Regions from separate parts of the Homo sapiens genome. Here regions 2, 3, 4, 5 and 6 are each reported to be linked to region 1. Evidence: microRNA targets listed by miRTarBase, many of them from high-throughput screens and not tested one by one. Region 1 holds a microRNA gene; each other region holds the end of a gene's coding sequence.
Evidence for each region. The annotated mature microRNA hsa-miR-5590-3p reads AAUAAAGUUCAUGUAUGGCAA and lies in region 1 at 3,307-3,327, shown strand. An mRNA with a match to its seed (bases 2 to 7 or 8) in the 3' UTR can be bound and repressed. Matches are read on the target gene's strand: a 7mer-m8 pairs with bases 2 to 8, a 7mer-A1 pairs with bases 2 to 7 and ends in A, and an 8mer does both.

Region 2: miRTarBase lists ERH as a target of hsa-miR-5590-3p. Seed matches in the 3' UTR shown: 8mer at 3,877-3,884.
Region 3: miRTarBase lists TRIP10 as a target of hsa-miR-5590-3p. Seed matches in the 3' UTR shown: 7mer-m8 at 1,345-1,351.
Region 4: the mRNA of SLC38A2 is a reported target of hsa-miR-5590-3p. Seed matches in the 3' UTR shown: 7mer-m8 at 3,026-3,032 and 7mer-A1 at 2,303-2,309.
Region 5: the mRNA of LZIC is a reported target of hsa-miR-5590-3p. Seed matches in the 3' UTR shown: 8mer at 2,527-2,534 and 7mer-m8 at 3,291-3,297.
Region 6: miRTarBase lists LUZP2 as a target of hsa-miR-5590-3p. Seed matches in the 3' UTR shown: 8mer at 511-518 and 7mer-m8 at 1,985-1,991.

What each region holds. Positions count from the first base shown.
Region 1 is chr2:134,854,547-134,859,973 of GRCh38, forward strand. MIR5590 (microRNA 5590) reads left to right here and starts at 3,274; the gene lies at 3,274-3,327. ACMSD (aminocarboxymuconate semialdehyde decarboxylase) reads left to right here. Exons shown (of 10, transcript NM_138326.3): 3 at 4,715-4,811. RefSeq lists a silencer at 4,379-4,579.
Region 2 is chr14:69,376,362-69,381,788 of GRCh38, forward strand. It overlaps ERH (ERH mRNA splicing and mitosis factor), which reads right to left. Exons shown (of 4, transcript NM_004450.3): 4 at 3,767-4,279. The coding sequence ends at 4,177. It also overlaps a transcript of GALNT16 not described here. Among named protein-coding and RNA genes, the nearest start is that of ERH, 19 kb to the right of the region's middle.
Region 3 is chr19:6,749,941-6,755,367 of GRCh38, forward strand. TRIP10 (thyroid hormone receptor interactor 10) reads left to right here. Exons shown (of 15, transcript NM_001288962.2): 12 at 1-126; 13 at 352-491; 14 at 572-693; 15 at 1,123-1,590. The coding sequence ends at 1,271. SH2D3A (SH2 domain containing 3A) reads right to left here. Exons shown (of 10, transcript NM_005490.3): 5 at 4,891-5,375; 6 at 4,676-4,791; 7 at 4,311-4,485; 8 at 4,112-4,223; 9 at 3,516-3,701; 10 at 2,220-2,813. The coding sequence ends at 2,653. Among named protein-coding and RNA genes, the nearest start is that of TRIP10, 13 kb to the left of the region's middle. RefSeq lists silencers at 3,460-3,639, 3,810-4,019.
Region 4 is chr12:46,357,578-46,363,004 of GRCh38, forward strand. It overlaps SLC38A2 (solute carrier family 38 member 2), which reads right to left. Exons shown (of 16, transcript NM_018976.5): 14 at 4,917-5,061; 15 at 4,707-4,804; 16 at 611-3,632. The coding sequence ends at 3,534. Among named protein-coding and RNA genes, the nearest start is that of SLC38A2, 12 kb to the right of the region's middle.
Region 5 is chr1:9,926,413-9,931,839 of GRCh38, reverse strand. It overlaps LZIC (leucine zipper and CTNNBIP1 domain containing), which reads left to right. Exons shown (of 8, transcript NM_032368.5): 8 at 1,383-5,427. The coding sequence ends at 1,441. Among named protein-coding and RNA genes, the nearest start is that of LZIC, 14 kb to the left of the region's middle. RefSeq lists enhancers at 528-1,027, 3,517-4,026.
Region 6 is chr11:25,078,266-25,083,692 of GRCh38, forward strand. It overlaps LUZP2 (leucine zipper protein 2), which reads left to right. Exons shown (of 12, transcript NM_001009909.4): 12 at 289-4,373. The coding sequence ends at 393. Among named protein-coding and RNA genes, the nearest start is that of LINC02699, 370 kb to the right of the region's middle.

The sequences.
Region 1 (5,427 bases):
CACCCCTGTCTACAGGTGGACTCTGCATAGTCCCTACTTCCTCACATTGCTCACTTCCAGGTCAAAGTTATATGCACAGGTGGGTGCATATAATTGGCAAAGCCCAGAGCACATGCTAATGCCCCATTACAAGGGAGACTGGGAAAGCATATTTTGGATTCTACCTCAAGAAAGCAGAATTTATAATTGTGAACGTTACTTCACACATAGGATGTGTTCCAAGGATGTTGGATGGCCACAAGCATGACAAGTATAATGATCCACATTTTACAGACAGAAAAAGTGAGGCTTAAACTCAGAGGGCCCGTAACTTCACCAGTCAGTGCTGCTACTAAGTAATTTAATGAGATTTAAACCCAGAGCTGTCTGAATGCAAAGACTGTGCTCTTTGGCACTCTGCTATACTGGGTATTTTATAGTGATTAAGCTTTCCCAGCAAGGAGCAAAAATAAATAAATCCTCCAATTTGCCAAATCAAAGTTTGTTTCTCAACTTTTTTTTTTCACCATCACCCCTCTCCTCTCCCTTCTTCACCAAATGAAAAGACATGTGTTCCTATATCCTATTTGTGCAATCATTATCAGTCAGGACTCTTGGTTGCAGGCAACAGAAACCAACAATCATTAGTGTAAGAAGAAAAGAAATTTGTTGAAATATTTTAAGCCCCTCAAGAACTACAAAGTATCTGTGGAATCAAGCTCAGAAAACTTGCAGAAACTCAGGGAATTCCCATGATTGAAGCCACAGCCAAGGCAACACCACAGGAACAGCCTGGCAAGGAGGCTGCTGCCCCAGCTGGATACTGCCCCCAGCACCACTGCCAATAGCCACTGTACATGGCCACTGCTGGAATCACTGGCAGAATAAATTCAACTCTTCCTGTTTTTTTGCATCACGTAATGCAAAACCAAGCATTGATTGGCCAAGCTTGGGGCAGGGAGAGCAAGTATTTGGCCTTCTGCAGAAGAAGGCTAGGCCCTGCCTCCACCACGACTGCTGCAGGAGATTCCCCAACCTAGGAAGTGGTTCAGATGCTGGCATGGTCAACGGAGGATCAGAGCTGAAGCACATCAATCTTGGTGTCCTGATGTCAGAGACCCAGCTCTGCTAGTGTGTGGACACCTGTCACAATTACACAAGTCAACTTGCTCACTGACCTGTTCCCCATCCCTGAGAAATAAAATGTGGATCTGAAGTCTTCCTCATATATGTGCAAAATGAACAGGCTACAGCACTTAAAGGTGAAAAGCATCCAGACTTCTTCATGCAGGAGATGGAGTAGAAGGATGTCTTGTCTATGGAGTAGAAGGATGAAGCCTTGGATGCAATTCATGATCAAGCCAAGAGGAGGAGGAGGAGAGCAGAGGACTCCACCAAGCAGAGCTCAAAGCCTTTGATCATTGCACACCCACTTGGACATTCTATGGGGCCCAAAGGTAACCTTGAGGCCCTGAAGCACCACCAAAGGTGGTGTGCCCTCAAAGCAGAGGAACACTGTCTAGCCCCTAGTTATACAACATTAATAACAAATAACCATAATAACACTTATGTGTCAGATACTCCACTAAGCGCTTTATATGGATTATCTTATTTCATGCTGACATGATCCCTTTAATGTAAGTCACATTAATTTTTTAAGGTAAGTCATTATCATCCCTATTTTAAAGATAAACAAACTGAAGCTTGAAGATATTGTTTAACTTGCTCAAGACCACATAGTAAGTGGCAGAACAAGAATTTGAATTCAGGCAATTTTATTTCCAGGGCCTACCCTAGTTCTTCCCCTTTTCTTTAGGAATCACAAACTGGAGGCCCAACGTAGATGCCACTGCCATGTTCTGCACAACCATTTAGTTTGGTCCCCTGCTCTGAGTATTAAAAAGTTGTGTATTCCATAATGGCTGTACCAGTTACCAAATAAGAGCATACAAGGGTTCCTTTTTCTCCGCATCCTTATCAACACATTATCTTTTGTCTTTTTGATAACAGCCATCCTAACAAGTATGAGATGATATCTCATTTCTCAATGATTAGTGAAGTTGAACATTTTTTCTTATACCTATTGGCCATTTGTATATCTATTCTGAGAAATGTCTTTTCAGGTCCTTTGCCCCTTTTTTCACCCAGTTATTTGTTTTCTTGCCATTGAGTTCTTTGAGTTCCTTATATAGTTTGGATGGTAACTCCTTATCAGATATATGGTTCACAAATATTTTCTCCTGTTCCATAAACTGTCTCTCTACTCTGTTGATCGTTTCCTTTACTGTGCAAAAGGTTTTTAGTTCCTCCAGCTTTGTTCTGTTTGCTCCAAATTGCTTTGACTATTTGAGATCTTTTGTGGTTTACATGAAATGTATGGTTTTTTTTTCTATTTCTGTAAAAATGTCATTGGAATTTTGGGGGGCATTTTATTAAATCTATAGATTGTTTTAGGTAGTATGGACATTTAAACAATATCAATTTTTCAATCCACGAACATGGGATGTTTTTCCATTCGTCTGTGTCTTCTTTAATTTTTTCATCAATGTATTATAGTTTTCAGATCTTTCACCTTTTTGGTTAGATTCATTCCTAAGTATTTTTAAATACTATTTTAAATGGGATTGCCTAATGCTGGGAGCAGTGGCTTATGCCTGTAATCCCAGCACTTTGGGAGGCTGAGGCCGGTGGATCATGAGGTCAGAAGTTCAAGACCAGCCTGGCCAACATGGTGAAACCCCGTCTCTACTAAAAACACAAAAATTAGCCGGGCGTGGTGGCGCATGTCTGTAATCCCAGCTACTTGGGAGGCAAAGGCAGGAGAATTGCTTGAACCTGGGAGGCAGAGGCTGCAGTGAGCCGAGATCATACCACTGCACTCCACTCCAGTCTGGGCAACAGAACAAGACTCTATCTCGAGAAATAAATAAATAAATAATGGGATTGCCTGATATCTTTTGCAGATTGTTAACATACAGAAATGCTATGGGCTTTTATATATCAATTTTGTATTCTGCAACGTTACCCAATTTATTAGTTTAACAGTTTTTTGGTGGAATATTTAGGGTTTTCTATGTATAAAACCATGTTGTCTGCAAACAAAAACAATTTAACTTCTTTCATTCTGATTTAGGTGACTTTTGTTTCTTTTTCTTGCTTCATTGCTCTGGCTAGAACTTCCTTTATGATGTTGAGAAGTGGCAAAATGAGCCCCCTTGTCATGTTCCTGATCTTAGAGAAAAAGTTTTCAACTTTTCATCATTTTCACCATCAAGTATGATGTTAGCTGTGGGATTGCCATACATAGACTTTATTGTGTTGATCAACAATAAAGTTCATGTATGGCAATCCCACAGCTTTATTCCTTCTATACCTAATTTATTGAGGTTTTTTAAAGTCATAAAAGGATGTAGAAATTTGTCTGTATCTATTGATATGATCATATGTTTTCCTGAGAAAAAGTAAAAATAGAACTACTATATGATCCAGCAATTCTACTTCTGGCTATATATGCAGAGGAAATGAAACCAGTATGTTGAAGAAATATCTGCATTCCCATGTTCAATGTAGCATCATTCAAAATAGCCAAGATATGGAATCAATCTAAGTGTCCATCAGTGGATGAATGGATAAAGAAAATGTGGCATATATACATAATGGAATACTATTCAGCCTTTATAAAAAGGAAATTCTATCATTTACAACAACATGAATAACACTGAAGGATATTATGTTAAGTGAAATAAGCCAGACATAAAAAGACAAATACTGTACTTATATGTAGAATCTAAAAAAGTCTAACTCACAGAAGCATCAAGAAAAATGGTGGTTACCACAGGCTGAAGGGGTGGGGAGAGATTGAGAAGGTCAGAGGATATGAAATTTCAGTTAGACAGGAGGAATAAGTTCATATCTATTGCACAATATGGTGACTATAGTTAATAAAAATGTATTGTATACTTGAAAATTGCTAAAAGAATAGATTTTAAGTGTCATCACCTCAAAAAAAATAAGTATGTGAAGTAATGGACATTTTAATTAGCTTGATTTAGCCATTCCACAATGCACACATATATCAAAAGATAATGTTGTACAGCATAAATATATGCAATTTTTATTTGTCATTTAAAATGTATAAAAATTATTGCTGTGTACCCAGGCAAGCATGATGCCTGGTGGAAGAAGTAGCTCAGTACCAAATTTTGTGCTTGCTACCAGACTGACTTCTTTGCCCACCTCCTCCCACAGGTATTGACACTAGTGGGCCCTGCTCTGTTTGACAAATCATACACTGCCATTATCCATATATTGCTTCTCCATAAAATGAGAGGGTTGGACTAGGTGGTCTATCTCAAAGGTTCTTTTCAATTCTAAATGTTATAGAACTACCATTTTCCAGACGCTGGGCCATCCTCTTGTATCTAGTAGCCAGGGGTTCAGATCAGCAAGGTGATCAGCCATTCTCAGTCAGGCAGCCCAGAGAAACATAACCTCAACCTTGCTATCTCTGTGTCCAGCCATTGACGCCCACAGAGCACACCCCTTCAACTCTAGGCCAAAGAAAAGCATGAGGAAAGAAAGCTGATTTTTGTTAAATTACTGATTTCTACTTCCACAAGGATTAAGTAAAAATCTTTTCAAATATTAGGGAAGAAATACGTTCTAAAGCACATGAGGAAAGATTAGTCCAAGTGGTCTTAGGTTGCATTTTAGTAATGTGGGTTTTCTGCCCCAGGGAGAAGCAAAGTTGTTGAAAGATGGGAAAGTCTTCAGAGTGGTGCGAGAGAATTGCTGGGATCCAGAAGTTCGTATTAGAGAAATGGACCAAAAAGGTACGATGAGAAGTGCTACCAATGTTAGCATCTGATGTAAAAGCAATGTCTGCCCTTAAAGTTTGCTGACAACTTTATGTGATGGTAACTTCTGACCCCCTTTTCTCTGCCAGGACAGGCTGTTCCAGCTTCACTGTGGGAGGGACAGGGCCTTCCACTACAATGCTTTTAGAGTGTGGATTCAAAATGTTTCATATGAGTTATACCCTGTTTTAAAATAGAATGCTATATCATGAAAAAGATAAAAATGGCATTTTATTATTTTTAAAAATTAGTTCAAATGTATAGTATTTACTTATTATAAAATCAATTAAAATAGTAAAAACTGGAAATCACAAAACTAAGAATGACAATTGCCTGCTTAATAACACTTAAGATCCAATTTCTTTCTGTAGTTTGTCTCGGTGCATCATACACAGAACATTCCCACTGACACATCAGGGTTGGAAATGGAAGCAGTTAAAAATAGTTAATTGTGTAATCTCAGAATACACTACAATAAAATCAATCCAGAAATTTGAAAGAAGAGAATTAGGAAGTGTTCGTTTCAAAGCTGAATTGCTAAAAAGCTATAAGAACATCTTGCACTTTTTACCTTATATCTAAAAATCAAACA
Region 2 (5,427 bases), not on the chromosome of region 1:
TGAGCTCTGAGAATTGTTCTTCTGACTCCCCATTCTATGCCCAGCCTCCTTTCCTCCAAGATAGTAATTCATTTTACTCATTTAATGAGTTAAGACCATTTAACACAAACTCTTTCAACTTTCCATGTCACTTTTTCTTCTGAGGTTAATCATTCCATCAGTATCCTGTTTAGTAATACATTGCACCATTATGTTTCCTCAGGAACAGAGCTAGAAAGTTAACCCAAGGTAACCACTTAGGGCCATGCTTCTCATAAGCAATCTGGTCTAGTAATACATTGCACCATTATGTAATACACTGACTCATGGTCAACTTGGGTTAACATTGTAGCTCTGTTCCTGAGGAAACACAATGGTGCAATGTATTACTAGACAAGACTGCTTATGAGAAACATGGCCCTTATGTGATAAATTACACCTAGACTGGGAGAAACAATGAATACCTGATGGGAAGACATGGCCTTGTGTTTCTCTGAATACAATGACTTGTAAATGCGGCATGCTCCTTGCAGGGACCTAGAAACTATGTCCATGAAGCTATTACAAGAGTTAGTGGCTCTTGTTGTACATGAAGCTTCTAAGTTGGGGTAGCTCTTGCACTTACCTAAGTCTTATCTCTTGCATCTGAGCTACTGTGTGTTTCCGTGTGTTCGGAGGATAATTCTTGGATGGCTGTGTGAACTGCCATGAGGAATACTCCCGTGGAAGAGAAACACTTGATGATGCTGGGCTGGCAAGCTGTTTTCTGTGTCCCCTGTGCTTTTGATTAAATTGGTGCCAAGTAAGACCTCTTCAGGTCTTGTGAATCCAAATATTTGATTGAGTCTAAAAAGGTCCCTTTGACAAGAATTAGAGGTCCATTATTTAGCACAGCTATTCATATTATGGGGCTCCCCTTCAAGGTCTTTGAGGTTAAAACCTTGTCTTTTTCATCTAGCAAAATTTTGGTATTGCTTTGTGATCTGGTGAATCACTTAGGCAATCTAAATTTTTATTTTTATTTTTACCATTAATAGAGATATAATTATTTCCTATCTCAAAGGGTTGCTGTGATGATAAATATGTAGAAATATTTCCTAGGCAGTAAAATGCTATGTCTAAGTGGCAATACTAGTATCATTATGCTAACATATAAATTAATATTTCTTCCAAAAGTATCCTTAGGTTGGGTGCAGTGGTTTATGCCTGTAATCCCAACACTTTGGGAGGCCAAGGCAGGTGGATCACTTGAGTCCAGGATCTCAAGACCAGCCTGGGCAACATAAGGAGACCTCATCTCTACAAAAAATAATTTAAACAATTAGCTGGCCATGGTGGTGTGCACCTGTAATCCCAGCTACACAGGAGGCTAAGGTGGATCACCTGAGCCTGGGAGATTGAGGCTGCAGTGAGGCATGATTGCACCACTGCACTACAGCCTGGGTGATAGAGTGAGACTGTCTCAAAAAAAAAAAAAAAAAAAAAAAAAAAAAAAGAACATGAACATAAAAGTATCCTTACAAATATAGTAACATTAATCAATTTATGTATCAATCCTGATTTTCATTCCAACCTTCAAATGATTAGTTAAAACAATTTGATAAAGGAAGACCATCCTGATGTAAAGTTGACAATCATACTGAGAAAACTACCCTGTCCTCTCTCCCCCAACCCAGCCTGGTCTGCTTTTAGGACAGTACAAAATTATTTGCTCATCCCTTAAGTCCCTCTCTTGCTGAAAGTAAAACAGTTCACTACTACTTCTGTCCCAACAATGGGAGTTAAGACACATAACCTGTTTGAGCATTTAGTAAGTTGCTGGAAATATATTAAGCCAGAGAACTGGAAGGGAAGTGAGATCGTTGAACTCTTTTTATACTCCTGGGACCTCTTAAATCAAGCACTACAGGACAGAAATGGCCATTATCAAGAAATATTTTAGAAATTCTCAGGTATATAAATTTAGATTATAAATCTGGATTAGAGAATCGGAAATTGTATAATCTGTCTGGGAGGTTTCACCTTTATGTAGCAGTATAAAATATCACTTAATAAGCGGAAATCAAACCTGTTTTACTTGTGGTTGGGGAAAGGCCAATCAACCAACACTCTAAATCTCTAACACAAGGACAGTGGTTGTACCTAGGCCAAACCACAGAAACTTTCATTGCACATTTCACCTTCACAAAAAGGCTACTTTAGGCTCTTTTTCTGTGTATTATGGGACATAGACAAATGTTTCTTTGTATTTATTCCAGTTCTAGTCTTCCTTAAGCTTTTAATGATTCCAAACACTGCTCCCCTTCTTTTTGTTCTCATCACTCAACATCTAGAACCCAGATACTTTCTCACATTCCTTTCTCATATTTTCCTCTGTAAGCCCAACACCAGAAATGGTACTATATCTGAGAATCAAGGGAACTCATTCCCTTCAGATCTGCTCTAGAGTATTTAAAAAATAAATTAATAAATAAATAAAGCCAAAGATCCTCTATTTGTTAAAGAAATAAAACTATTTTAGCAGGACAGGCCAAATGAAAAACAGGACAATCAGATTACTTTTGGATCTATTTCTTTTTGTGTGAGATTATTTTAGCTTTATTTATTTTTTTTTTGAGACAGAGTCTCTGTCACCCAAGCTGGAGTGCAGTGGTGCAATCTCGGCTCACTCACTGCAACCTCTGTCTCCCTGGTTCAAGGGATCCTCCTGCCTCAGCCTCCTAAGTAGCTGGGATAGTACAAGCGTGTGCCACCATGCCCGGCTACTTTTTGTATTTTTAGTGGAGACAGGGTTTCACCATGCTGGTCAGGCTGGTCTTGAACTCCTGACCTCAAATAATCTGTCCACCTCAACCTCCCAAAGTGCTGGGATTATAGGCGTGAGCCACCGCACCCGGCCTATTTTAGCTTTAAAATTTGGTTGGTTTCACAGTGAAACATTAACTACAACTCTACTTAATTTTGTCAGGTACCCTAAAATTCTAATAATCTCTTGGTACAGTGATAACATTTCATTAACCAGATTATTCTATAGAAAAACTGAGCACATATGAGTATGTTCTAGGTAAAATTTTGTCTTGCATAAAACAACAAAAAAAATAGTTAAGGCCCTAATGTGCAAGTAGAGGCAGGAACAGGGGGATATTAAACCAATCATGAGCCTTCCAAAAAACTTTCAATCTTATGCTGTGTCAAGATATCACTGGCTGTTGGTAAAGTGCTAATAGCAGAATCAGAGAGTGCTCATGTACTTGCTGATTGAAAATACATGATTGACATGATTGGAAGTACACTCCAGCTTGGGTACAGAGTGAGACTGTCTCAAAAAAACAACAACAAAAAAGAGACAAGACTATCTTACACTTTTTTGTGGTTTTTCCCTTGCCCTTATAGCTTCCCTACAGTAGTGGGTAACTAGTATCCAACTGAAGGCTCTGAAAAGGGCACAAAGACCTCCTAGAAAGAGTACTTCATCTGATCAACACTAAGAAGTTCATCTGTCTGCTGCTGCTGCTGCGGACAAGCTTTATCACCAGAAAGTCATTTATAACGTTTGCGTCAATAGTAGGTACAAACCTTGGAGCTATAATTAAGATTCATTTAATTATGCTGGAAAAGTGAGGTAAAAGTGTTATTAGCTTCACAGCAAAATGTGTTGCGCACTACTTAAACTTTCTTCAAATTCTTTGTGTAGCAGCTATTGGTTTTTAAACTTAAAATGAAAAAATGCTTTGCAAGAAAATTCAATGTTCAAAGACAAAAAAAAAAAAAGCACTCAGGGAGAAAATATAACTAAAGGACATTTATTTATTTTTACCAAGACTTTATCTTGAGGACATGGCTAAACTGCATTTCCACCCCCCACCCCATCTTGAAGAAGGGTTAGTATGTGAATGTTATAAAGTAGATATGAACAGTTGAAGGACTGGAACCAACATTAAGTGACGAAGAACAACTTCCATCTAAATCATCATAAAAATGTTTAAGTAAAAAAAAAAAAAGAAAGAGAAAGAAAAAGAGGAGGTAACGGGGGTTTCCGATTGAACAAGATCCTCACATTTCATCTAATACAGTCAATCTTGGCTAGAGTATAACAAAGTGGAAACAGGATTACTATGATACAAAACTTCCACTACAGCACGCTGTACACACCTGTGTTCCAAGCCCACCCCAACCCCCCCAGTGCTTCCAACACAATTATTTCCCAGCCTGTTGGGCCTGCCGACGAAGGAGCACGTAGATCTTCTCTTTAATCCAGTCTTTGTTATAAGGCTGGTATGTCTGGGTATCAGCTCGGTAACTGAGGAGAGAAAGGGAATAAGCAAAGTCACAGTGGTCAATCACTGCCAGGTGTTTAAATCCCCAAATTATAACTGCCCAATGATGGCATAGATGTGCACATTTCCAAAAATGAACTTAATGAAAAGCTGAAAGAGCTACTTACACAGTCGTTGAATTTTAAGTGACATGAACTTTATATCACCTAGTACAATCTTATAGTGGAAAAAGAAAACATGACTTAGAATTTTTAAGTTAAATGCCCAATATGTTACATATCTACTTCTTGACAGAGTATGACCAGAAACCATGTGTTCTTCCTCCTACATAGTTTCTATTTTTATGGTTCCTTTAGTGATTAAAAAACAACAACAAAAAAATTGGCTGGGTGCAGTGGCTCATGCCTGTAATCCCAGCACTTTGGGAGGCTGAGGCGGGTGATCACTTGAGGTCAGGAGTTCAAGACTAGCCTGGCCAACATGGTGAAACCTTGTCTCTACTAAAATACAAAAATTAGCTGGGCATGGTGGTGCACGCCTGTAGTCCTGCCTACTCAGGAGGCTGAGGCAAGGGAATTGCTTCAACCGGTGGAGGATGCAGTGAGCCGAGATCGTGCCACTGCACTCCTGTGAGTGAGACTCCATCTCAAAAAAACAAAAACAACAATACTAGAACAAACTTTAGATTTGCAATGTTTATTCTGAATTAACTAAAAAACCTTTAAAAAACATGTACTGGCAACAAAGATTTCTTGCTAATTTCCTTCCCCCTGTAAAGTATTAAGGAAATCTTAAACCTATATTTTAGGATTTGCTTTTTAAAATAAATAATGCTAGAGGCCTATGGAGAAGAATTATCAGAAGATACAGTAAGCTCCAAAATATCTCTAATCAGAACGAAAAGGAGTACACAGACTAGCATTAGCAGTAAAACTCCAATGGGACTGTGAGTAGTATCTAGTAAGATGTCACAGAGTACTGGGTGTCGCTTTAAATTCTTATCTGAATTAACTCATTTTTACAACCCTGTGAGTAGGTACAATTATCCTCACTTCCCACCACCCCCACCACCGACCCCTGCTTTTTTTTGAGACAGAATCTCACTCTGTAACTCAGTCTGGAGTGCAGTGGTGCCATCTTGGCTCACTGCAACCTCTGCCACCTGGGTTCA
Region 3 (5,427 bases), not on the chromosome of region 1:
CTAAAGAAAATGAAGGATGTCTATGAGAAGACACCTCAGATGGGGGACCCCGCCAGCTTGGAGCCCCAGATCGCTGAAACCCTGAGCAACATTGAACGGCTGAAATTGGAAGTGCAGAAGTATGAGGTCAGGAAAGACCCTGGGGAGGGGCGGGAGCCAGCGGGCCTGGCTGAGTCACTGCTGGGTGGGGTGGGGGGTCGGGGACAGGGGAGGTGTTCGGAGCGGGGGGTCTCCAGCTGTTTTCCATCACAGCCTTGGCTGTGCGTGGGTGATCTCAGGGAACCTCTGGGTCCAAAGTGGGCTGACCCCGGAGCTCTGCCCTGGAACGATTTTCCTGTCCCCTCCTCCCAGGCGTGGCTGGCAGAAGCTGAAAGTCGAGTCCTTAGCAACCGGGGAGACAGCCTGAGCCGGCACGCCCGGCCTCCCGACCCCCCCGCTAGCGCCCCGCCAGACAGCAGCAGCAACAGCGCATCACAGGACACCAAGGAGAGGTGAGGGGTGACGTCAGAGTGGGTCTGTTCCCAGGGTCCCAGGAGGGCCTGTCTTTATCTGCCGAATTATCCCCAAACAGCTCTGAAGAGCCTCCCTCAGAAGAGAGCCAGGACACCCCCATTTACACGGAGTTTGATGAGGATTTCGAGGAGGAACCCACATCCCCCATAGGTCACTGTGTGGCCATCTACCACTTTGAAGGTGAGAACGGCCAGAGTGGGCTTGGCGGGGTATGGGAGGCAGTGTCTCTGGCTAGGTTCAGTTTAAATTCGCCTAAAGCAGGGCTGGGCGGGTGGCTCAGGCTTGTAATCCCAGCACTTTGGGAAGCTGAGGCAGGCAGATCACTTGAGGTCAAGAATTCCATACCAGCCTGGCGAACACGGTGAAACCCCATCTCTACTGAAAGTACAAAAATTAGCCAGGTGTGGTGGCGCACGCCTGTGATCCCAGCTACTCGGGAGGCTGAGGCAGGAGAATCCCTTGAACCTGGAGGCAGAGGTTGCAGGGAGCCAAGATCCGTGCCACTGCACTCCAGCCTGGGCGAGAGCGAGGCTCTGTCTCAAAAATAAAAAATAAAAATAATAAATTTTGCCTAAAGCAGATCTGGGCCCACCCCCACCCCCATCACAGGGTCCAGCGAGGGCACTATCTCTATGGCCGAGGGTGAAGACCTCAGTCTTATGGAAGAAGACAAAGGGGACGGCTGGACCCGGGTCAGGCGGAAAGAGGGAGGCGAGGGCTACGTGCCCACCTCCTACCTCCGAGTCACGCTCAATTGAACCCTGCCAGAGACGGGAAGAGGGGGGCTGTCGGCTGCTGCTTCTGGGCCACGGGGAGCCCCAGGACCTATGCACTTTATTTCTGACCCCGTGGCTTCGGCTGAGACCTGTGTAACCTGCTGCCCCCTCCACCCCCAACCCAGTCCTACCTGTCACACCGGACGGACCCGCTGTGCCTTCTACCATCGTTCCACCATTGATGTACATACTCATGTTTTACATCTTTTCTTTCTGCCGCTCGGCTCCGGCCATTTTGTTTTATACAAAAATGGGAAAAAAAAAAAAGAAATTATATAAAGTTCCTAGAGTCGGTGTCTTATTAGAGGATTTAAATACTGGGACTGGAAGTATCTAACACCACGTTTCTTACAGGCCACACAGGGAATGAGGAAGGGGAGGTGATCTTGGGCACACCTTGGGTCAACCCTGCCCCTTTCTGGAAGTTGGCCTATGTCATTGTCAGTGGGTGTCTGCTTGTGACTCAGGTAGGGAGAAGGATACCAAGTTTCTTTTTTTTTTCTTTTTGAGACAGTCTCACCCAGTTGCCCAGGCTGGAGTGCAGTGGCGTACGTGATCTCAGCTCACTGCAGACTCCATCTCCCGAGTTCAAGCAATTCTGCCTCAGCCTCCCAAGTAGCTGGGATTACAGGCACACACCATCATGCCCAGCTAATTTTTGTATTTTTTGTAGAGACAGGGTTTTGCCATGTTGGCCAGGCTGGTCTTGAACTCCTGACCTCAAGTGATCCATCTGCCTCGGCCTCCTAAAGTGCTGGGATTATGGCGTGAGCCACCGCACCTGGCCAGGACACCCAAGTTTCATCCCTTCTGAATGCACTGCAGCTTCTGAGAATGGGTAGCACTTATTGAAGACCTACTGTGTGCCAGGCATTCTCCACCTGGGGTCTCATTCCTGGCCACAATTCTTAGAAAGTACACAGCCTCAACTTTTACATTTTTTAAAAGTTTTTTATTTTTCAGTTTTTGTAGAGATGAGGTCTCACCATGTTGCCCTGGCTGGTCTTGAACTCCTGGCCTCAAGCCTTCCTTCCGCCTCGGCCTCCCAAAGTGCTGAGATTACAGGCCTGAGCTGCTGTATGGCTATGATTTTGTTAAAGGCCGACACAGAGGTGAAGTCAACTGCTAGAAATCACGGCTTTTAAGAGGTGGAGTCACATTTGAACTCTGGCCTCTGATGCCAGATCTGCAGGTCACATGTTCACCATGGTCCAGGTGACCCTGACTGCGGTCCCCACCTCTTCTGTGAGGCACAGGGCAGGATTCCACCTGAGGCGCGAGGAGCCTGGGACGACTCCTTTGGTCTCTTCTGGGGTTCGCAAAAACCTGGGGGTCCCGGGTGTGAAGAAGGGTGTCTGCGCTCTCAGCGGTCAGGCTCCAGGCGCTGCGACAGGACGCCGAGGACGCGCTGGAACTTCTCAAAGCGTTCAGCGCGCGGAGCTCCCGCGCCCCGGCTACCCCAGAGCAGCCTCCGCACGAAGCCGGTGGTCAGGGCCTCCCTCAGCTCCGGGTTAGGCCGGAATCCTGGAAGCAAGGTCAGGTGGGCTGGGGGCGGGGCCCAGGCGCCCGCCTCGCCCCTCCCAACCTCCCGGCACCTTCCTTTCCCCAGAGGACTTTGACCCAACAGGGGCCCGGGAGGGACCTGCCCCACCTGCGGGATGACTAGGCGGGGTCAGAGGGGAGGGGGCTTCCAGCTCTCTGCAGGAATGGGGGTGGGGTGCCTGAGGGGCTCTACCGCAGTGCAATGGGGTGGCCTGTTCCAGGTGCCAGATCCTGGAGGTCCCGCCTTAGGGGCTGTGCCTGGACGTGGGGCTGCCCCGAGGACGGGATCCCAGGTTGTCGGGGAAGGTGGGGGGATCTTGCCGGGTGGGCTGCCCTAGGATAGGACGGAGGAGTCGTTTTGGAGGGAGCAGGGCGTTCTTGGGGATCGAGATCCCTGGGGGACGGGATCGTCTTAGGTGGGAAGGGGGAGTGGGGACCCGCGGAGGTGGCTCTGGGGGCAGGACAGCCCGTTTTGAGGTGGACGGCCCTGTTCCTATCAATACCGCTGGATGCAGCGTTTGCTTGGGGTGAGAACCTTCCTGGAGTGGAGCCGTCCCAGTTTGGGTGGGGCTCCGGGAGGCGTGGCGAGAGGCTCCCCTCCTGGGACAGGCTGGGTTTGGGGGATCCGGTTAGAACCTGCAGGGTGCTCTGAAGTCTGCAGTCCAGCGCAGAGGGAACGCTCACCTCGCAGGCGCTGGGCTGCCACCTTGCGGAATTTGGGTGCGTCCCGGACCATGTGACGCGCCCCGTGCAGGGTGCGCAACAGCCGCTCACAGCTCTCGTCCAGCGGCCCCGCGACTTCCTCGCCCTCCAGTAGGCGAACCATGGGTGCCACGTGCGGCAGCGCCACCTCGCCGGGGTCGCAGGGTCCTGCGGAGGGGGAGGGTCTGATCAGGGTTTGGGGCTGTAGATGGGGCATAGGGCAGAGGTGGAACCTAGGACAAATGCAGGGGCGGGGCTTAGGACTGAGCGACAGCGGGGTCTGTGGAGAGGGGCCAGGACCACACGCCCCGTATGGAGGGCGGGGCCTATGGCGAAGGGGCGTAGCCTAGGGAAAGGGGCTGGGACCAAGGCTGGTGGGGGCGTGGCCTAGGAACAAGTCTCGTGTGGAGGGCGGGGCCTAGGGAAAGGGCCAGGACCAACCCTCATGTGGAGGGCGGGGCCTATGGTGAAGGGACCGGGCCTAGAACAGATGCAGGGACTGGGCATAGGACTAGATTGAGTCCTGTTAAATTTGGTCTGGGCCCCCAGGGGATGCTAAGCCCCAGACCTTCACTTACCAGCGCCCTCATCCAGAGCCCGCATCAGCGGCTTCAGCTCCTGCTCAAAGGCCAGCGCAGCCTCCGTGTGGCTCCTTCGGAGCTGGCGCCACGTGTGCTCCAACCGGGACACCTGGGAGAAGAGATCTGAGCACGCCTCCTCTCCAGTCTTCCCAGTCACCCGCACTCCAGCTTCCTCCAGTCCCTGCTCCCCACGAACCTGGGGCATGAGCAGGGCGCCCATGACTGCAGCCAGCCCGGGCAGGTCCCCCGCCGCCCCTGGCCGCAGCGCCAGCGCCAGCTCTACCAGTCCCCTCAGTGCGGCTGCGCGCTCCTCCAGCGGCCCCGAGCAGCCCAGCACCGCCAGCGCCCCGGCCAGCGCCAGTGTCTGATGCCTGCAGAGGTGGAGGGCAAGGGTCTGGGGGAAGTGGGGAGGTTTGTAATGCAGGGGTGAGGGGGGACAGGAGGTGGCATTGCCCCATCTCCCTTCTTCCCTGGGGAACCATGAGTGGGGAGCTGTTTGGAGATCTTGGGAAGTGGGGGGAATTGGCCTCCCCCAACCAAGATTACAAGCTGCTGGCTCACCTCTCCAGCAGTTCCAACCTCAAGTGGTGTCCATGGGGAAGAGTGAGCAGCTCCAGGCCAGATGAGACTCCCATGTTGCCCCGCTGATCTCTGGTCACTCCCAGGAGGCCTGTGGCCTGCAGAAGGGAATGGGGAAGTCAGGTGAAGCGTGATTATGTAGGCATGGTTGGGTCTTGCCCTGGGCCTGGGGAGGAGCATCCCAGGAGGTGACCCACCTGGCAGTCTACCAATAGCAGGTGAAGGGCGGTGCTCCCAGGATGGTGCTCCAGGAACAGGCCACGGAGGGTATGCAGGACTTGGGGTTCCAGGGGCCGATTCTGGGGGCCCAGCAGGCAGGAGGGGGCATCATGGGGGCAGAAAGAGATCTCAGCCTGTGGTCTTGTAAAACATCTATTCTCTTCCTCCTCATCCTCCTCGGCCTCCCACCATGGGGCCTCTGGCTCTGGGCAGCTTTGGCTCGGGGATGTTCCCTGGACACTGGGCACTCGGGGCACCAGCTCGCAGTACGTCGGGGGACGTTCAGAGGCATCAGGCAGTTCGAAGGAGGGTGTCCGGGGGGGCTTCGTTGGTGCCTTGGCTTGAAGCTGCCCATCGGAGGCCCTGAGACTGTCGGCAACAGTTCCCAGGGGAGCAGGGGCCTTCAGCAACACCGGGTCACTGCTCGTTCGGGGCAAGGCAGATATGGGCATGGTGGAGGCTTCTAGAGGTCATACAAGAGGGGTCAATGGGAATACACAGGGAAGATTGCTGAA
Region 4 (5,427 bases), not on the chromosome of region 1:
TCGGACTTATCAGTAGGCCATACCTAAACTAGCCTGTGTATCTTAGTAACCTTCCCACTTCCACTGTTGCTCAAGTAAAACCATGCTGTTACACGCACCAGCTTGTCCATTAATTCCTCTTTTCCTGTGACTTTTTCACCAAACTGAACATATCCCAACTTCTTTCCAGGCCACTTGATTGCTCCTGGAGTTTGTGCATCATTATCACCCGAGTGGCCTTCTTAAGTAAAAAACCAGATCCTGGGCTACCCTACAGCTGGACCTTTGCAATCAGACAAACTAGGCACGTTTCAGAAAGCTGTGGTTTTAAAAGGCTCTCCAGTTGATTCTGATACATTATTGACCTATTTATTTCCATCAGCAGGGCTGAGCCTGGGCTCTTATGATGCATTTTAGCATCTTCCCCCAACTCTCCAAGACTTTCCATTCCTTCTCACTTTGGAAACTTAGAATCTCTGGGAACCTAAACTTTTTTTCCTGACCATTCATCACAAACATATGGACACCTACTAGGTGCTAGGTACTGCAGTTACAATGCAATTTGCATTAGACACTGCCTATCCCATTACCTGAAAAAAACAAAACAAAACAAAACAAAAAACACTGCTACTCAGGATTAAGCATGTATTTATTTTAGTTCAGTTAAAACAAACATACATTGTTTCATTGAAACGGTGTAGCACTCTTTGCCAACAAGCCATACTAGAATTGTTGGCCTCTAACAGTACAGTGGGGATATTTACACTATATACACAAAGTTAATACACCCAGGTTCTCAAAGGTCTTCCATTACACTAGATCACATTTTATTTCATTACACTAGATCACATTTTGATTACTGCATTTTGAAAATGTATTCCTTATTTAAATTTTAAATAAGAGATCTGAATTTGTACCAAGATTTCATGAAAAAATTTGATGTTGTTTATTGCAAATACAATTTAAACAAGTTTTTTTTAGTGTTTGTACACAATTTGTCAATTTTTCAATATTCAATTTTCTGTACAGGTACTTTTGGGACAATTCTTATAGTTACATAATGTGAATTCATCAAAATGCAGTTAAGAAACTTACAGGAATATATACACTTGAACCCAAGACCCAAACCTGACATTATATACAACCTATTTACAAATACATATGGACAGACAATATATGTACATAGATTATCATAAATATTGAAAAATAGGTTAGCTTTAATGGATTAATGTTGTTCTATAAATAACATTACAGTTGTAACTGAAACATCCACGGAAGACAGTAATGCAAAATGAGGTGACAAGACAGTGGTTTTAATACTGAAGACTGCTCATTAATGGGAATTCATTGTTCAGGAACCTCAAGGTAGACAAGATAGCTCCCAGAAAATCATCCATTGGAATTTTCCCTAGGCACTTGATTTTGAACCTTAAATAGCCAGAGGATTGGAGGAGCTTCCTCACATTAATTTGCTGTAGAGAAAAGAATTTTTTTTCCATTCCTTCCTGGTTGCCACAGTATCTTCTCCCATACAAAAAAAAAAAAAAAAGTCTGTAGAAACAACTCTTGGTATTCCCTGGCAGGTCTTAGATACAAAGTCAGCAACTCTTTCCAGGAGCTCATGCAAATTTGCCAATTCTTGGTCTCAACTAGAGGTGAGGTTCTGCATTCGAATGGAGTGCCTAAAGCCCAATTAAATGAAAGCAGTGCCGTAGAATCTGTCTTCCCACTGCCTTTCTATTTCTAGATGGCCCCCAATTATTTTATCTTCATAGAAACAGACAAAAATGGACCAACGGTTTCACCCAATGTAGCACTACAAGACGTCTTCCAGTTCCATAAGGGTCTTTAATTACACATGTATCTTGTTTGTAAATTTAGTCACATATAATACAAGAATGCGTAACAAAAACCATGTCTCCACATTTCTGGCCCTTGCCCCAAACAACATTTTTAGTTCAAGGGCAAACCTTACAGCCAGATGACCAATTGACAATTCCATTATTTGCTTCCTTCAACCACTTAATGGAATTATGTATATTAGATTTTAGACATTATGCCTGATGAGCGAAGTACCACATTATTTAATAATATATTCACCATACACTGTGACGTACGATAAATGTGCTCTTAAAGCCAAGTTTCAAAGTAATTATTTTCATTTCTAACTGGGATTGAAATGGAAGGGTTGACATGCAGTTGGACCAAAATGACTACTAACACTCAGTTTGCACTGTTTTCCCTAGCTAACCATTTGTTGGATGTAAACAAGTAATTCTACGTTGTACAAGAATGAGATGACAGTCCAGTGCAAATGAGTTTTTATAAAGCTTACTGCATGAGAAACCCAGTGGCCTACGCAAAGAGAACTTATATCATATCAAACATAGGTGTAACCTGTGGATTAGACCTCTACTGTAGACAAAACATGAACACAACTAAGCCATACATTGTCAAGTAATTCACACTTCCAGTAGGTGAGCATTTTGAAAAAGTGTACTCTCTGGACACAATAATTTTGGCCTATTGCCATCAAATGCCCATTTTCCACTGCTGGAAGCAATGTCAAAAAAGGGCTGGCCCAAAAAAAGACCCAGAGCTGTCAATACAACACTGGAGACAGATGCAACTGAATAAACCCTGTTTTACCCAATTGCACTATTTGGTACCTCAAAATTAGTTATTTTATTTCCCACAGAAATATCTGCATTATCTTCCATTCTAATAAGTTGAAGACACAAACATTTCAGTCTGAATGAACCAAATTGTTTGGGGACAGAGAAGAAAAGTGATGAACAGAGTTCATCTGATTTGGTATAGCAATAATCAATCATCTTTTAAGTAATGGTGACGTTTAAATGGAAAAAACTATGCTCCTAATTCATGGTACAATTTTTCATTACATCATTTTCTCTAAAAATTATTTTGGGTAAAAAAGTATTTGGCTTATTATGCCTACAAAAAGGCAAACCATTTCATTATATTAATATTCATTTTTAAATACCAATGACATTATTTTATGGAATTTATTGATAACTGCTTCTGAATAAAGTTCAAAAAAGCAATTTCTTAAAAGTAAAAGAGTGCTTCTGAGGTCTTTAAGTATTTTTGGTACAAAAAATAATAGTGTTTTTGTCAATGGTTATTCAATATTTTGCTGTAAATTAAAAAGAATTGTTTCTCACATCAAATGGTTCCATTAGGCACATTCAAGTAAAATCATAAAATATCCAAGTTAAACAATGACACAGCCAAGCATGTGGCTTGATAAAAGTTAAGAGTTTGTCCATTCTCTGGAATGGAATAAAATTGTCACTTCCCTTAACCCGAGACTCGTGGTTTTGTTGTTCATATCCATTTCTAACATACAGATAAGTTTCTTAAAAAAACAAAACAAAACAAAAAAGTTCACTTATTCTGCACTCAGAAGAACCAGCGAGGAATCTGCACTTCAAAAGGAAGTGAAACTGAAAACATTAGGTGAAATTTCATAGTAGTTGAGTTTACTCAACACTGGCATCAGATGGACTGAGTTTGAGTTTGAGTGGTGCCAATTAATGGCCACCTCCAGGTGCATTGTGTACCCAATCCAAAACAATCAAGGCCATGCTTCCGGTCATCACCAGTACACCACTTAACAGGAAGAACAAAGCCTGCAAAGAGCATAGAGAAAATTGATCAGCAAGTAATAAAACATATATGCTAAACATTTCTTCTATTTTTTGAAATGTGCTTTAATTACTAAAATCTATCCACTATATAATCTATAGAAAGAATATTTAACTTGCTAAATATAAACTCCTAAGTGATCAGTATGTTATCTGCAGTACACAATAACTACCTTTGAGGCCTTCTGAACTTTTTCACTTTTTCATTCCTTTGTCTCAAGTGACAGGGAATTTTCTTGCTAAACAAACTGCTTCATATAGAACTGGACTGGATTTTTTTTTGCAATTTTTTAGAATGAAAGTCAAGTCACAAAATCAAACCCAAATCATCCTAAAATGCAGCAAAAGTCAAAGCCAGAGGTCTTTCCAGGAAATACTAATTCCTAAATCCTACCCTTCAATACTGCCACTATGTAATTTAGAGTAAAACAAGATGACAGTTGTTGGTTTATAAACAATTCTAGTACTTTAATCAGAGCAGAATGAAGGAGAAAATAATGACTAAAAAGCAGTCTTTTTCCTAAATATCACCACCAGGATTCTGGTTCTAGGAACCACATCATTTGTGGTTAGCACATCATTCTCTGTCACCAACTGGTACTACACTTTAGAGTAGATACATAATAGTAAACACCATGAAGAGACGGCCTCCCTGAGAGCTTCGCTCTGAAGATGGTCAGTCTCATTCAACTAAACAGCCCTTCCTTCTCTTTTATATATTCAATGCCCATTTAAGTGCCTGTCACACAGTAGGCAGTCCAGTGAAAACTGGTTGAACAAATGTTGAAAGCTGAGTATCTCATCTAGTCTTCATCCCTATTCCTATCTCCAAAGTATCTAATAACTTTATTGCAATTAATTTAAGTGTTCATTAGATGGCAAACTATCTTTCCCCTTCCCTCTGCAATCTTCCATCTGTGAAGTATACCATTACAGAAATGTTTGCTGGAAACTTAAAAGTGAAACCATAACAAATAACAGCTATGAGAATAAAATTAAAATCAGTTGGGGAAATTTATGATATTATTACTGTTTCTATGGTTATAATCTTTCACTCACCCCAATCTTTTGTACAGATTTCATAGGTTCTTTCTTCACCAACTTGATATAGAAGGCAGAAGGAAGAATAAAAATCAACATAGAAGCTGCAGATGCACCTGTAAAACAACATTTATGTTTCTTGAGGATTCAATGAACCACTCGTCATTCATTCTTTAAATCTTAAAATCCCTGATGTTTGAATCCACTTGGATACTTTCTAAAACTTACCAATAAAACCAAAGATATCCCTAATAGTTGGGACAAAGATGACAAGTAAATTGGTAAATGCCAAGATAGACACTGTAATGAGACTATGACGCCACCAACTGAAATCTTTTGATGCACACAACAAGTGAGTTACAGAACTCCGGATCTGCAAAAAAAATAAATAAAATGTATTTTAAAAATAGCAGCAATATAAAATTTAAAAATCCAGCTTCAATGAATGAAAAGAATGCCCAAGTAACAAGGAATCTATCCAAAATAGTAACTATTTCTAAATAAAACTGTGCCTCTTTCTCTGCTGTTTCCTGAACATCTGAACACTTAAAGATCATTTTATATCTTATGGTGAAAAAAATGTCCCCAGGGTATTTTGAAAATATACACTGTATTTTTAAAAAGCCCCTTCAAAACCACCACCAACTTAGTATTGTTCTACTGGTGTTTCCCTTCTTCCAGAAGATGAAAATCTCACCAATATTCACATGTCTAAAAACTCCTTCCTACTGAAAGCAGA
Region 5 (5,427 bases), not on the chromosome of region 1:
ACATACAAACTGATGGAGAGTGTGGTTGAAATAACATAATAACCTTTCCTTGAGTTTAAGAGTGAAACCAGAATTGTTTTCTTTATAAATCCATTGTATTGGTTTTATTCCCCAATATTAAAAATAAATTAATGCAGCCTAATGTTTTTAAAATACTTGTCAGGTAGACGTAACTATAACAGAAAACTAAAATTATATGCTTGAGGCCAGGAGTTCTAGACCAGCCTGGGCAACATGGTGAGACCCTTTGTCTTCAAAATTAAAAAGCGGGAGGCCAAGGCCGGGTGCGGTGGCTCACACCTGTAATCCCAGCACTTTGTGAGGCCGAGGCGGGCAGATCACGAGGTCAGGAGATCGAGACCATCCTGGCTAATACAGTGAAACCCTGTCTCTACGAAAAACACAAAAAATTAGCTGGGTGTGGTGGTGGGCACCTGTAGTCCCAGCTACTTGGGAGGCTGAGGCAGGAGAATGGTGTGAACCCAGGAGGCGGAGCTTGCAGTGAGCCGAGATTGTGCCACTGCACACCAGCCTGGGCGACAGAGCGAGACTCATCTCAAATAAATAAATAAATGAATAAATAAACAAAATTAAAAAGAAAAAAAATTAGCTAGGTGTGGTGGCATGCACTTACAGTTCTAGCTACTTGAGAAGCTGAGGCAGGAGGATCACTTGAACCCAGATATTTGAGGCTGCAGTGAGCCAAGATCATGCCATTGTACTCCAGCCTGGGTGACAGAGCAAGACCTGTCTCCCCGCAAAAAATATTTCTTCTTTCTTTATTTTTTTTTTTCACAGAAATGTTTTAAAATAAATTTTATGGCCAGGTGCGGTGGCTCAAGCCTGTAATCCCAGCACTTTGGGAGGCTGAAGTGGGTGGATCACCTGAGGTCAGGAGTTCGAGACCAGCCCGGCCAACAGGGTGAAACCCTCTCTACCAAAAACACAAAAATTGGCTGGGCATGGTGGCACGTGCCTGTAATCCCAGCTACTAGGGAGGCTGAGGCAAGGATAATTGCTTGAACCCAGGAGGTGGAAGTTGCAGTGAGCCGAGATCGCACCACTGCACTCCAGCCTGGGCGACAAGAGCGAAACTCCATCTCAAAAAAATAAATAAATAAATAAATTAAATTTTACATATTATATTTCATAGCTAGAATAAGGATTTATAACTAATAAGTCCCCCTTTGTAGCTGGATTGTTTGTGCAGAGGGAAGGAAATTGGGATGGCAATGGGAACGTGTAGGGGTTAATACACTGATAATGGAGGCTAATTATATTTTCTGTTTTAATATCTATATGATAGATTTTTTCCCACTTTACCAGGAATTGCAACTGCACTTGAAATAATCTTTTTGTTTATTATGTGTCTTTTTTCTTAGGCTCTGGAGACAAAATTCTTGCTCTGGCAAGTTTTGAGGTTGAAAAAACAAAAAAATGACATGGTGCAGAAGCTTGTAACATTGATCACATTCTTAATGTAAATGGTGTCTTTCTTCTGGGGTTTTCAGTTATTGCAAAGAAATGAAGAGATTCTGGAAATGCATCAATAACCTAAGAAAAAGCGACATAAAAATATACTTATGGCTTGTGTTTATGCTCTTCATCATTGTGCGTTGTGTGCGGTTACCTGCTTGAGTGATCCTGAACTTGTTGCGACAGAGGGACTCACTGGACTCTGTTCGTTATGATTTGTCTGTTTAAGAGAGAAAACAAAGTGGACTTGATTTTTATTAAGGCTGTTTGTTTTTAAGTGTTGATAGTGAACGAAAAGATGTGAAGTAATGATATTTTTCTGCTTACAACTTATCCCCACTCATTGGAGTGAACAGTGACGCAAGCTCAATAGACTTCATAAGTGTTCATAGAATTTTACAATTCTGAGTGATCTTAGAAATCATTTCTGTTTTTACAAACAAGGAAACTGAGGTCCAGAAAGAGCAAGCGACTTTGCTTAAAGTCGCATCAGAGAGCTGAGGGTAAGACTCAGGTGTCCTGACTCCCAGTTTAGTATCTTTTGAATTTTATTTCTGTACCATTTAAAAAAAATAATTAACACTATTTGTGCAAGTCAGTGTTTTTGAAAATTCAGTGTCCCAATAAAAAGTGGACTGCACACTAAGGGACCATCCCCCAGCCTGTAAGCTGTCTGTATTAATGGGGCCCGTTGTATCTCGGAATTTTGAGGTTGGAACAATGGGAGCCCTGTTGAGCGTTTCCTAAAGTGACTTAGCCGCCTGCGTTGTTTGACCAGGGAAGCAACAGGAAATGGCAGCTAGAGGCCCTCCCTGTGCGTGACCTCTTGTCACACTCAGAGGGGGGTAACTGTCAGCTGTTATCTACTCTTCAGGTTTTGGAGAAACACAAAATAAGTTATGAGGAAAAGCAAATTTCTCTCCTGAGTATTTACATGTCTCTGTATGCTCAAATATGCAGATGTGTCCCTATGCGTGTATATTAGCTTATTTTTTAGGCTCTAGCCATTTTATATTCTTTCATGTGCTTCTCAATATTCTTTTTCTTTGCACTTTATACAAATTAAAAGCATTTTTAAAGCTTCTTCTGTACTGTAAACTACTAGGTGCTTTGCCAACCAGACAGATTAGAGGACCTCCGCTACACTGATGCCTTATTTGGAACTTAAAAGAGGTGAAATTCATATATCATAAAATTCACCATTTTAAAGTGTACCATTCGTTGGCAGAACATTTACAGTGGTGTGCAACCATCACTACTCTCTAGTTGCAGAACATTCTTATCACCCCCAAAGGAGGCCCTATACCTATTAAGCAGTTAGTCCCCATTCCCTTCTCCTCCGACTGCTAACAATAGCCACTAATCTGCACCCTGTCTCTGTGGATTTACCTATTCTGGATATTTCATATAAATGGAATCATATGATATGTGACCTTTTTATGTATCTGGCTTCTTTCACTTAGCATAATATTTTCTTTTCTTTTTTTTTTTTTTTTTGAGACAGAGTTTTACTCTTATTGCCCAGGCTGGAGTGCAATGGCGCAATCTCAACCTCCGCCTCCCAGGTTCAAGAGATTCTCCTGCCTCAGCTTCCCAAGTAGCTGGGATTACTAGTGTGTACCACCACGCCCAGCTAATTTTTGTACCTTTAGTATAGAGACAGGGTTTCACCATGTTGGCCCAGCTGGTCCTGAGCTGACCTCAGGTGATCCAACTGCCTCGGCCTCCCAAAGTGCTGGGATTATAGGTGTGAGCTACCACACCGGGACATCATCATATTTTCAAGTTTAACCAACATTATAGCATGTATCAGTACTTTATTCCTTTTTATGGCTAAATAATATTCCATTGTATGGATATCATATTTTGTTTATCCGGTATCTGTTGATGATTTGGGTTGTTTCCTTCTTTTGGCTATTGTGAATAATGCTTCAGTGAACATTTGTGTACAAATATTTGTTTGAATACCTGTTTTCAATTTTTTTGGGTGTACACCTAGGAATGGAATTGCTGCGTTTGTTGTTGTGTTGTTGTTGTTGTCGTTGTTTTTTGAGATGGAGTTTCACTCTGTTGCCCAGGCTGGAGTGCAATGGCGTGATCTCGGCTCACCACAACTTCTGCCTCCCAGGTTCAAGCGATTCTCCTGCCTCAGCCTCCCGAGTAGCTGGGATTAAGGCATGCGCCACCACACCTGGCTAATTTTGTGTTTTTAGTAGAGATGGGGTTTCTCCATGTTGGTCAGGCTGGTCTCGAACTCCTGACCTTAGGTGATCCACCCGCCTCAACCTCCCAGAGTGCTGGGATGATTACAGGCATGAGCCACCATACCCGGCCTGAGCCACCACACCCAGCCTACGTTTGTTTTTTAAGCCATAGAAGATTCTTCCCACCAGTCGGGCACAGTGGCTCACACCTGTAATCCCAGCACTTCAGGAGGCCAAGGCGGGCGGATCACAAGATCAGGAGCTCAAGACCAGCCTGGCCAACACAGTGAAACTCCATCTCTACAAAAATTAGCCAGGCATAGTGGCAGGTGCCTGTAGTCTCAGCTACTTGGGAGACTGAGGCAGGAGAATCACTTGAACCTGGGAGGCAGAGGTTTCGGTGAGCCGAGATGGCGCCACTGCACTCCAGCCTGGGCGACAGACTGAGACACGGTCTCAAAAAAAAAAAAAAAAAAAAAAAGAGGAAGAAGATTCTTCCCTTACCCTGCAATAGTAGACCAGAAAAATTAGGAATATCTTGAATTTGAAAGGGACCTAATGCCTGGCACAGTGGCTCACGCATGTAATCTCAGAACTCTGGGAGGCAGAGGTGGGCGGATCGCCTGAACTCAGGATTTGAGACCAGCCTGGCCAACATGGTGAAACCCTGTCTCTAAAAAAAAAAAAAAAATTAGCCAGGCGTGATGGCATGCACTTGTGGTCCCAGCTACTCAGGAAGCTGAGGTCAGAGGATCACCTGAACCTGGGAAGCAGAGGTTGCAGTGAACTGAGATCACGCCACTGTACTGGCTGACAAAGTGAGACCCCTGTCTAAAAAAAAGATAAAGAGAGTTACCTGAATCTGGAATCCTTAATCTTGGTTTTCCTTAAACTTTCTATAAGTCCAGCATCTGAAATATTTTGTCAATTATCACATTAATGTGTTCATTTTGTAAGTAAGAGTACTCAATTTAAAATGATCTTACTTTAAAAGTGGCCTAGTTTGCAGTGCCCAGCAGGACACTGACAGTCACAGCTGTGTGACTTTTTGTGGGTTACTTAATTTTTTTGAGCCTCCTTTTCTCTTCTATTCAATGAGGATAATAGGGCCTACCTCATAGGATTATTATGCATTCCCCTCTGTTAATGCACGTAAAGTTTTTACTTGGAAAACTAACTCACCATTTAACAACCATTCTAAGCACCATAGGATATATTTTGTTTCACAAATTTGGTATTCATTCAGAATAAGTATTTGAAAAGTGAGTAAATTCTATGCAATTATAGTTATTAAATGACTTATAAACTGTGTTTCTCTTCCACTTCTTGCTACATTTAATCTTCTAGGTGTTCAGATATCTTTGGAGATTATAGGCAGCAATAAAGCTAAGGCAGCTAACCTTTCAACATTCTTGTGTCAGGCTAATATTTTGGTGAAAGGAATTCTTGTGTTTCTCAAAGAACTAGAGCTGAAGCAGAAATAAGTTCCAATGAGCAAGTGTCCAATCGGACCATTGAATGAAATCTAGTGTTTTAAACAATTCTGATGTTTCAATGTTTTGTTCTGTTTTCTTTTGATCTTGTGAGCAGTAAGACATATTTTATGTGGGTGGTAAAGGAAGAAATCAAGTAACAGAATGAGGAATTGTTCCCAGGAAGAGTTAGAGTTGGGACAAATGGGTTGTTAACTTTGATTTTTAGATCTTCTCTGAAGACATTAAACATGGAATGGTCATCTTTAGAAAAA
Region 6 (5,427 bases), not on the chromosome of region 1:
TATTTTCAAACTTTGAATTAGATTAAACAGAATTGAATGGCTTGGGCAAAGTTTTTTCAAAATAGTTTTTGAAATGTTTTGCTGTTTTTAGGCAAAATATTGTTATGTACTTTTATGAAATATAATTAACATCTTCACATTTGTTTCATTTCTGTCCTGTGTTCATTTTCTCTAAGATATTTGTTGAGATCTTTGAATTTCCATTCTTATTCTTTTAGACTTTTCAATTTTTACCTTAAAATGTGTTATTTTGATTCTTCGAATTGTCTTTTCTGTATTGTTTAACAGAAATTGCAAATGCCTCCTTGCTCTGAATGTGAGGTGAAAAAAGCCCCAGAAAAACCATTGACCAGCTTTGAAGGGATGGCAGCTAGAGAAGAAAAAATACTGTAAATACTAAGAAACTGTGTTAAAAACGTCCATTTGCTATTGTCTTCATATTCTTTTTAGACCACAAGCTTGATGGAAATACTGTTTCTAAAGCATGCAACTTTTTCACAATTTTATGTAACTTTATAAAGTAGCCTACACATTTTCAAAGATTCCAGACCAATTATGATCCTTAAGCAATAACCTCATTGAATTGAATACCCACAGTCAGAAATATTTTGTTGTCAACAGTAAATTGTCCCATATAAATTGGTCTGGTTTAACTCAAATGCTATCTAACATGTAATTCTCCCGGTTCATTTGGATATCTAGTACTTCTATGATATAGTTGTCAAAATCAACTGGAGGATAATAAAATATTGTGGGTTCTCAGCATTCTTAGAATCCAAATTACAACCATATCAGTAAGGGTTTGGTCCACATGAGCCAACTGAAGTCATTTTCCTCAAGGTTGGAATTTGTGCCAACCTAAATACGTTGTTTCTTTGATGGTGTTTATTGCTATTGGTATTATTTTGAACTAATAACAATTATTTTGTCTAAATAATGCTAAGACAATTCTGTTAAGAATTTTGTCAGCTAACATAATTCATTAAGTATGTTTGGCATCATATGGACAAAATATTTGGATGAATGACTAAATTTCTGACACAATTAAATATTTTGGCATTCTATAGACACATCTCCTATGTATGTCTACTGTAATTAATCCAAGTTAATAACCAAGTTTTCTGAAATACTTGGCAGGATTTTTGGTATGAAGTTGGGTAGTGGAATAGGGAATGAAGAGTGAGTTCTAAAATACAAATATGAAAGCAGGTAATATATATCACAAAACAGGGGTCTGATGAAAGTACAATAGCCATGTTGATTCAATAAACCCAGATGCATATTTTTTGAAAACCAATGTGTTATTGAAACAAATCAATGGCAGTGTTAATCCATAAGAGTTCTGATTTTCTATAGGAATATCACTAATCAAAAAAATGCACTCATGAATAATTGGAAGATAGCTCACAAGCAAGAGGAATTGACCCTTGAATAATTATCTGATTAATAGGTTTCATAGGGCATTCAAAGTTGCAGACTCAGTTAATGACTACAGTTAAGTTGTCTGGACTGAAAAGTCATTTCTTTTGTTTAGAACCTTTTTGCAACCGTAGAAAGCATATTAAACCATTGGTTTTGCAGGATGGATCTGTCAAACCACAATATATACATTTGGATCAGTGTATCCTAGGAGACAGTTAATAAAAATGTATTAAAGGAAATCTTTAATCAATAAATGAACTTAGATTCTGAGATTTAATGGCATACCTCTGATCAAAATGGCATATTTAAAGAAATTTAAAGATTTGGAGAATTGGAAAATATCGTTAGCTGTAAAAGTAATATTATGACATATTTATGTAGCACTTCTATTTTCAGAATAGTTCAGTGTCATTCATTAGCACAGGCAGGTCCCAACCACAATGGTTCAACTTAACGGTTTTTTCATGATTCTGTGAAAGCTTCATAATTTCTACATGCTTTGAATTTTGAATTTTGTTATTTTTTGGAGGGCTAGTGATACATGGTCCATGAAATATTCAACACTTTATTATAAAATAGGGTTTGTGTTAGACAATTTGCCCAACTGTAGGATGAGGTATATGTTCTGAGCACGTTTAAGCAGGTTTAAGTTAGGGTGGGCTATGATTTTCCATTTAGGTATCTGAAATGCATTTCAGACTTACAATGTTTTCAACCTTTGACTTCTTTATCTGTATGTAATCCTATTGTTAAATCAAGGAGCATTCATATTTTTCATAAAACCGGCTACCCAAGGAAAAAAATAATTAGCTTTATGGATGATCCATAGAGCTTTCAGATGAAGTGACTAGGATAAAATAAAAGATGAAGGTCTGAGGTTTCTTCTGACTCCTTCATATTTCTAAAAATAATCATACAAACTAGAATACTGCTAGTCTCCCAAGTCCTGTTCCTTGTAATTCTCCCACTGTTCTCAGTGGCCCTAACCATCTCTATAGGTTCCTGACAGGGAAGCAGATCATTTAGTTTTAATTTATGTTCAGTCTCCCACCTCCACCCTGGGGCCCAACTTCCCTTGCAGGCCTTGTGGGTCCTATAGAAAGTTATTCACCATGTAATCTAGCACAGCATGTTTTGAAGCATCTTTGGAATGAAAAAAAAGAAGAATCAGGCTGTTATTTCCTGAAATTGTTATGAGAGATAACATGTTGAAAGGTAAGAACTCAGGTTGATATTAATCATGTTTTTATCAATCTTCATTTTAAAGTTGTTTTTGTTCTGTATATTCTAAATTCCTTTTATTAATTCCTGGCTTGATCAAGTGGGCTTTGGATCCATATGATTTTTTTTTTTTTTTTTTTTTGAGATGAAATCTCGCTCTTGTTGCCCAGGCTGGAGTGCAATGGAGCGATCTTGGCTCACTGCAACTCTGCTTCCCAGGTTCAAGTGATTCTCCCTGCCTCCGCCTCCCAAGTAGCTGGGATTACAGGTACCTGCCACCATGCCCGGCTAATTTTTATATTTTTAATAGAGACGGGGTTTCACCATGTTGGCCAGGCTGGTCTCGAACTCCTGACCTCAGGCGATCCACCTGCCTCAGTCTCCTCCCAAAATGCTGGGATTACAGGTGTGAGCCACCGTGCCTGGCCAGTGTGTTTTTTTCCTTTAAATATATATGGCATTATACATCCAGCAAAGTTTACTGTGTTATACTCATTGCATCATTTGTTTAAAAAAAAAAAAGAAACTTGTAGCAGGAGACATTTAAAAATATATTTAGGAGTTCCTTTTAATAACTAAGTTAGAGACTCTCTTTCAGTAAGTTCTATGACTGTACCTTAATGAATGCATTTTATTTATCTCAATTTTTATTTGCTTCAAAATAGAATCGGATAAGTTTAAAATGTTCCTCTTACATTTGTGAATGTGTCTATGAGAGAGGGGCCATTTCTCACATATTTTAATTAACAACTAAATAAACAGACGTTGTTTTAAAGGAATTAACACTTAAATCCCAACCATCCTCATATAGAATAAAATATCAACCTAAATCTTTACTATAGATAGTATAATTCTATTATGTACCTGTAATGATAAGCATTGAAAGATTATTTACATTTTGAAAAACATGGAATTGATTCTTATTAAGAAAAAAGATATTTTCCAATGGAGTAACTTGTTTTAATAGAGGTACAACCAGAACCAACAATTGTATTTCTCTATAGTTATTTTAAAATAGTAATCAATGCTATGTATTTGATGTATATGTTTCTAAATTAGAAATTTCTTTTGGCTTTGTGTTTTTTTAATGTGCGTTAAATATGTAAACTGAACCTGTTCCTAAAATGCATTAAACTTGAATGCTGTGTCTATCCAATGCCAAAATGCTCAGAAGAAAAGTGAATAATTCAGTCATTCATCTGGATGTAGTTTTCTGTGTAATCTCAAATATCTGAATATTGAAAAAACTAGGTTGCTAACTTTTTTCATTCCTTATGCAAATGTTTAGCATCATAGTGCTGTTTCAGATACAGATCTGTTTCATCAAATATCCTCAATTACAAGTCTAAGACAGTTATATGTAAAGAAAATGTATTATTTTAGATGAACAATGTGGATAACTGAACTAAAACGATATTTGTGAACTTTGCTATAATGAAATCTTTTATTTTTATAGCTCAGGTATTGTAATTAGCACTAATTGCAGCAGAGACTGAAATAATTATTGACACCGTAGAGTACCATAGAGTAGGTTGAACTGGCCAGACCTAGACAATGAAGAAAACACATACTGTTTACTTAGGAGACATTTTCTTAGTCGTGTGTATAGTCCTAAATTTCCCCAAACTATGTGTTCATTTGGATTGTGTTATATAATAACAGTCGAATGATGAAGAATAAAAGATGCTGAAAGATGGCCTATTTTTGTTCAATAAAGATTGTTACAAGAATACAATGTATATTATCTTACATAAACTAATTGAAAAAGCAGATATGAACATTAAAAATGGTACTTGCTTCTGTGTATCAGGATGTAAGAACTTTTCTTAAATAGCATCTTGAAATTTTTTTTAATCTTTCTTTGCCAATGACCCCAAAATCTTTTATTTTGCAGGTGCTTTCTTTAAAAAAAAAAATAGAGTTCCATGGTCACAGGGATTTTGTCTTTTTTTTAATTTGAATTTTTATTTTTAATTTATGAATTATTGTGATGTGTAATAGGTACAATGTGATGTATCTCTATATATGAACACACATGTAGCGGAATGATTATATCAAGCTAATTAACATATCCATCACCTCACAAATTAATCTCAAGTGCTTGGAGCTAGCTGCCTCATACAAGATGCTCAAACATTTGTTGAATAAATTAATTTAGAGGCTGAAGCAGCAAGGGAACAAGCAGGGGAGCAGCAAGGGAGCATGTATTGGCATGAGAACAGAGAACCATAAGAACCAAAAATAAGCATTTTGTTTCGTTTGTTGCTTTGTTCTTAGACTATCTTTTTTTTTTTTACTTTTTCTTTTTCTTTTTCTAAAAGCTTTAATAATAGGCCTGTGGCTGGGATTTTCTAAGCAGAGTAGATAAGGCACTCCTGGGTAAATTTTGAAATGTAGGTCAATGCAATAGAAATATTTCACGTGGACTTTATGAGTCTTTAATTGACACCCACTTCTGACACATACTTGGACATGCACAGGTCACTTCTTTTAGCATTCGTTTCCTAATCTATTGGGTCTTAAGCAGTTGGCTTAAAACAGAGATTTTCTTCTACATTCTGAAGAGACCTAGCCCTTTAGTAAAAATAACTCTAGGGCTACCGAGAGGTAAATGAATATCAAGAGGATAGGCTCTAGATTCTGTTTGTTTGTTTGTTTGTTTGTTTGTTTTTTGAGACGGAGTCTCGCTCTGTCGCCCAGGCTGGAGTGCAGTGGCGCGATCTGCGTTCACTGCAAGCTCCGCCTCCCGGGTTCACGCCATTCTCCTGCCTCAGCCAACCGAGT